Linked DNA regions of Homo sapiens: region 2 is linked to region 1. The links come from fine-mapping of genetic effects on gene expression. A gene starts in region 1. The other region holds a variant in brackets. All regions are shown on one strand. Distances are from middle to middle.

Region 1 (2,908 bases):
GGGGCGGACCCCCTCGGAAGTTCCAATCTCAGACTCCTCGCCTCAGCACCCTGCAAGCTCCATTCCCTAGCAGCAACTCCCACTCATGTCCCATCTGTGTTCCTCCTGCATGTTGCGCACACGTGTGCATGTGATGCATGTACTTGCGTGTGCGTGTGTGCACCTATGTTGGGAGGGAGAATGGGGGTGGAAAGGAGCCCTCAGCATCCCTTAGAGGCCAAGACTAACCTTGTCCCCTAATCTGACAAGCTGGGAAACAGCACAATACAACTAAAAGTAAATCACAGGTCAGGAAAACACTTTCAGGAAACCTAACAAAGGGATGATGTCTATGTTACGTGAAGAAGTCCTACAAAATGATAAAAATGATTCCAAGAGATGGAGAGTTCCTGCCCAAGACCCAAATAGACAGGTCTTGCACCTGATGAGGCCTACAAAGAAAAAATCCTATGGACAAGACTTTGTCCAGACCTGCAAAGAAAGGATGGGCGACAGGCAGTGAAGAATTACCAGTGTGTGCTTATCAAATGGCAATTTAATACAAACATTCATTACCAGTGATGCTCCTTGGTGAGGTTGTGGTGAAACACATCACCTCACTGTCAGAGGGAACAGAAACCCTTGCGGAAAACAATTTGGAACCAATTTAGAAACAATACAATTTGAAAAAATGTTATGTTCTTGTTCCAGTTATATGGCTCCTAGGAATTTATGGTAAGGATATAATCCCAAAAAAGAAAAAAGCCGTATGAATCCTAATAAAGATGTTCGTTACAGCATTATTTATAGAAGCAAAAAGGTAACCAAATACTATCTTTTTGTAGGCATTTGGTTTAAGTATTTCAGTAGGGGATTGAAATTGGGAAGACTATGTAGCAACATGGAAAATGCTTTAGATTTAGATTTTGTAGATCTCAAGGGAGCAGAACACACAATTATGTGTATGATATGGTTATCAGTGGGTGAAATTTACACACGCAAATGGACAGGCTTGGAAAACAATGGAGCCACAGAGCAGCCACTGTGGTAGGATTAGTTTTTTTGTGTTGTGTTGCACTTGTTGCTTATGTCGCACACGCATGTACATGGTCTATGCAGTACACATATATGCATGTATGTATGAGAGTCAGATATCCGAGTACATATCATTTACTTTTTCCAAACATTTGCCCCTCTACCTCCAGGATCTGCCCACCCCATCAGTGTAACTTAGTAATTAAATCCCAGATGCAGCAGGCTCGTTCTGGTTACCTAGCAGCATGCCGGTGGGCAGCTGAGCCGAGGGGTCTTTCATCCAGTCGTCATTGGCCAGTTCTATCACAGCGTCCACAGGCGTGATTTCAGTGCAGATTAAATCCCTCACTCTCTCCTCATCTTTGGCATCCAGGGCAGACTTTAATCTCTTCACTAAATCTGAGTTGAGTGGGTAGTCGGGAAGGTAATCCGAGTTGGACATTGTTACGTCGTTTCTGCAGTGACCAGCCCTTCTTTTCTTCCTCTAAAGCGACTCCAAAGTCAGCAGCTGTCCGTGAGAGTGGCGTGGGGGCTGCTATAAATAGCAGCACCCTGGCTCCTCTTACAGTCCCTGCGGAGGGCCACCTGCCAGCAGGGAGGTGTGAAGTAATCTTTCCAGAGGCCTCAGCAAAGGATTATTCTAGAGATGGGGGCAGCAGACATGTTTGTGAGTGGTGCAAGAAGGAGAGACAATATTTTCAAAGACAGCTTTCATGGGTATTGTTGAATAATATCTTCTTTTATCAAAAGTGAGGCTCTCTCCTGAAACTTTGAAAACCTCTTCCTGGCACTGGGCTTGGACCTCTATTCTGTGGAAAGGAACATTTTCTAATATTCTACCCCTTGTGTTCCTTCACTTCCTCTAAAAGGAGCGTCTGGTCACCTGCAAATTGGACATGCCTCAAACGCATAGAATGGAATGGAATCTTTGGTTTCCAAATGCAGAGAAGGACTGGCTGATCTCAGGAAGACGGAAGCATCACAGAAAAACAAAAAAAAGTAACCTAAATATTACCTGTGACCTCCCTATGCCTCAAGGCTGGTAAACTTTGCTCAAAGCCTATAATTCCATGACTTGTGGAAGTGTGGAGCCCTCAGGGGGATTTCTGTGCACTCCTAGGGGCAAAGGTGGGGCTTTCTCTCCTTGACCTGTGTCTTCAGTGTGCTTGGGTCTCTGTGTGCCAACCTGTGCATAAGCACAGCTGTGCCTGAAGCTTCTCTGCTGATGCCAAGTGTGCTGTGGTCTCTGAGGGCCCAGGGCGGGCCGTGGAGCTTACAGGGCCTCCTTCGCCTTGCCTTCTATCTCGCCATCTTTTCCATTCCTTACTTTCTTTCTTCTCCCCTGTGCTTAATTTTATGTCTCAATTTGGCTAGGACCCCAGTGCCCAGAGACTTGGCCCAACACTAGTCTAGATGTTTCTATGAAGGTGTTTTTGGGATCAGATTAGAATTTCTTGAACCGGCAGACTTGGAGTGAAGCCGATGGCTCTCCCTAATGTGTGTGGGCCTCCATCAATCAGTTGAACGTCTGAATAGAACAAAAGACTGACTTTCCCTGAGCAAGAAGGAATTCTGGCGGCAGACAGCCTTTGGTCTCAACCTCAGGTCTTCCCTGGGTCTCCAGCCTATCAGCCCACCCTGCTGATGATGGATTTACCAAGTCTGCACAATAGTATGAGCCAATTCTTGAAGAGAAATTCTCTCTCTCTCCCTACATAACTGTTGGTTCTGTTCCTCTGGAGAACACTGACTAATACACCCTCTTCCTCCTTTCAGCTCATTTGTGTGATTTTCCAGCTTCTGTTCCATCTGCACTTGAGGTGCCAGGCACTGTAGTTCCTGCCCAACATCCATTCTCCTTCCACCTGCCCAACACAGCCTGGCTTTCTTGGTG
Region 2 (2,908 bases), 27 kb before region 1:
TATTAGAATGTATACAATTAAGCCCTGACCATACCATGTATTGGTGAGGCTGTAAAGCAACTGGAACATGCAGACATCGCTGGTGCGGATGTAAAATGGTACAACTTTCAAAACTAGTTGGGCCATTTATTAGTTATTGTTATTATTATTTGAGACAGGGTCTCAACTCTGTCACCCAGGCTGGAGTGCAGTGGCGTGAACATGGCTTACTCCTGTGCTCAAGCGATCCTCCCACCTCAGCCCCCTGAGTAGCTGGGATTACAGGTGCATGCCAACATGCCTGGGTAATTTTTGTATTTTTTGTAGAGATGGGGTTTTGCCGTGTTGCCCAGGCTGGTCTTGAACTCCCGGACTCAAGTGATCTGCCTGTCTCAGCCTCCCAAAGTGTTGGGATTACCGGCATGAGCCACCGCACCTAGCCTAACAGTTATGTTCTTAATCATACCGTGTGACCTAGGTATTTATTCAAAATGCATAAAAGCATATGCCCATTCAAAGGCTGGCACACAAATGTGCATGATAACTTTGTTTGTAAAAGACCCAGACTGGAAACAATCAAATGTCTCCCAACATCTGAATGGATGAACATAACATACTGTGGTTCATCCATACCACGGACCGCTACCCAGGAATAAAAGGAATGAACTACGGACACACACAGCAACACAGATGAATCTTAAAATAATTATGTCGAGCGAGAGAAGCCAGATAAAAGACTGCAGATTCCATTTATACAAAATTCTAGAAAATTCAGACTAAGCCAAGTAATAGAAAGCAGATGCTAGGGATGGAGAGTGAGAAAGGGGCCAGTGGGAGGGAGAACCGTGGGCACCGTGAGGCCACAGGGGGAATGATAAATATCTGCCCTCCATGGACTGCGGGGTGTTGCACGAGTGTATAAGTCTGCGGAATTTATCAAATTGTACGCCTTAAACACGTGCCGCTTGCTGAATGTCAATCACACCTCGGTAAAGCTGCTTTTAAAGAGCATTGCTAGAACCTTGTTTCCTTCCTCTTTCTCAAGACTGGCGGGGGTCCACGTGGCCCCCTGATCCCCCCTCTGAACTCAAATGACCTTTCTTAGGTGGGTCCCCTGCCTGAGTCCCTGAATGCCCAGCAGTCCCGCCTGCCTGCGTTGCTGCCCCTGCTGGGCAGGACATCCAGGCAACTTTGACAGTCGGTGGAGAAGCAGCAAGGGCGATGCGGTTTCTGAGAGAGCCGCGCGGGTTCCCAGCACTAAACGTGGGCGACTTTCCTTAATCTTC[C/T]CCCAGAGACAGAAGGCCATGCAATGACAACTCCAAGGGCAGGGGCTGGAGCATTTTGACTAACAGAAAAGTCAGGATGACACAATGCAAGCCGAGAAACCCCACACGAGTCCTGTGCAAAGACAGGTGGCCCCGCTGCCTTTCCGAGACCCGGAGCACACGCTGGGAGGGCGCTCTCTGGGGACGGGGGCTGCGGGACCCCCAGACCCCGCGCCCGGGCGCGAACTAGCTGAGCGGCCGCTGGGCCTCCCTAGAGGCCGGCACAGCTCCGCTTCCGAGCGGGCCTGGAAGCCCCGCCCGAGGAGCTAACCATTTATGTCACACTGTGACAATTATTCTGCATAAAATTATCATTAAAAACCCTAATTTTTCAGCCTCCAACCCCGCCAGTGGCCTTTTAGCATCCCCGGCGCCGGCGGCTGGGCTGTGATCACCGCGCTCATTACCTCGGCGTGGCGCCTCCCGCGCGCGCTCGCAATCAAGCGCTAATTAAACCCGCGGGGGCCGGGGCCGGGGCGCGGGGCGGGGGCCGGGGCCGGGGCGCGGGGCGGGGGCCGGGGCCGGGGCGCGGGGCGGGGGCCGGGGCCGGGGCGCGGGGCGAGGGCCGGGAGGTGCCAGGTCTGGGGTCCCGGGTCAGGGATCTTGGATCTGGGTCCCGAGGCAGGGGCCGGGGTAGGGACGGGGCGGATGCGGGTCTGGGGATCCAGTGGGCAGAGTCAAGGGTGCAGGGTCTGGGTCCGGAGGCGGGGGCTGGGACGGAGGCGGAGGCGGGGTCGGCGGTCTCGTGGGGGGAGGCGGGCGTCTGGTCTCGGGGCGGGGCGGACGCCGCGGGCCTGTCCCGAGGTCCTTACCCGAGCGAGGCGGCCGTGCGGCAGAGGTGCAGAGGCGCCAGGCCCTCGGCGCTGAGCAGGTCGGGGTCGGCGCGGTGCTGCAGCAGCAGGCGGACGCAGGCGGTGTGGCCCCCGAGGCAGGCCTCGTGCAGGGCGCCGCGGCCGCCGGGGCTGGCGTCTGGGTCTGCGCCGCGGCCGAGCAGGTGTCGCACGCAGGCGGTGTGGCCGTGGGCCGCGGCGATGCACAGGGGCGTGGTGAGCTCACGCTTGTACTCCAGGGTCCAGAGGCCTGCGGGGAGGGAGGTGGGATGTAAGGTCAGGGGGAGGTTAGTTGTGGTGGTGGTGGGCGGTGTTCCTTAAGGCGGAAAGAAAGTGAAGCCGTCTCTTAAAGGTAGGTACCAGGTAGGCATGTAGGGAGAAGAGGATAGAATCAGAGACGCACACAGAGACAGAGAGCAGAGAGACACACTGGGAAGAGACAGGCGTAGACAGAGGAAGAAATACAAAGGAGAGATTGAAGGCTAAAACCGAGCTAGAGAGATGGGGCGCCGGGTATTGAGAAGCAAGAGGATTTTGCCAAATACGGGGGTGACTGGGAAATGGGGTCAGTTAAAAGCTGTCCAAGCAGGGTGCACGGTAGGCGAATTTAAGTGAGGAATTCACGTGTTCCAGGCCCTGAGTTAGGGCAGCTTGAAAGAGGAAAGTGGGTTGTGGAATTTTCCCGAATCCAGCACTCCCTTAGCTGAGCTCCAAACTTGTCCCTTTATCATTAAGAAGAGACAACAGACAAAACAAACTGACCCACACATCACC

Direction of the effects. Alleles are on the strand shown, and positions count from the first base shown. SD is a standard deviation of normalised expression in the study named.
For the expression in putamen of the gene that starts at base 1,517 in region 1, T is the low allele of the variant in region 2 and C is the other (moderate effect, 0.73 SD a copy in GTEx).

The links. PIP is the estimated chance that this variant, and not a neighbour inherited with it, causes the effect. A credible set is the group of variants that fine-mapping cannot tell apart.
Region 2: its variant is the best candidate, but not a certain one, in a credible set for the expression of ASB18 in putamen (GTEx, PIP 0.67).

Annotation. Positions count from the first base shown.
Region 1 is chr2:236,262,890-236,265,797 of GRCh38, forward strand. It overlaps ASB18 (ankyrin repeat and SOCS box containing 18), which reads right to left and starts at 1,517. Exons shown (of 6, transcript NM_212556.4): 1 at 1,252-1,517. The coding sequence starts at 1,456.
Region 2 is chr2:236,235,573-236,238,480 of GRCh38, forward strand. It overlaps ASB18 (ankyrin repeat and SOCS box containing 18), which reads right to left. Exons shown (of 6, transcript NM_212556.4): 3 at 2,117-2,384. Among named protein-coding and RNA genes, the nearest start is that of ASB18, 27 kb to the right of the region's middle. The variant C/T (reference allele first, on the strand shown) is at 1,266.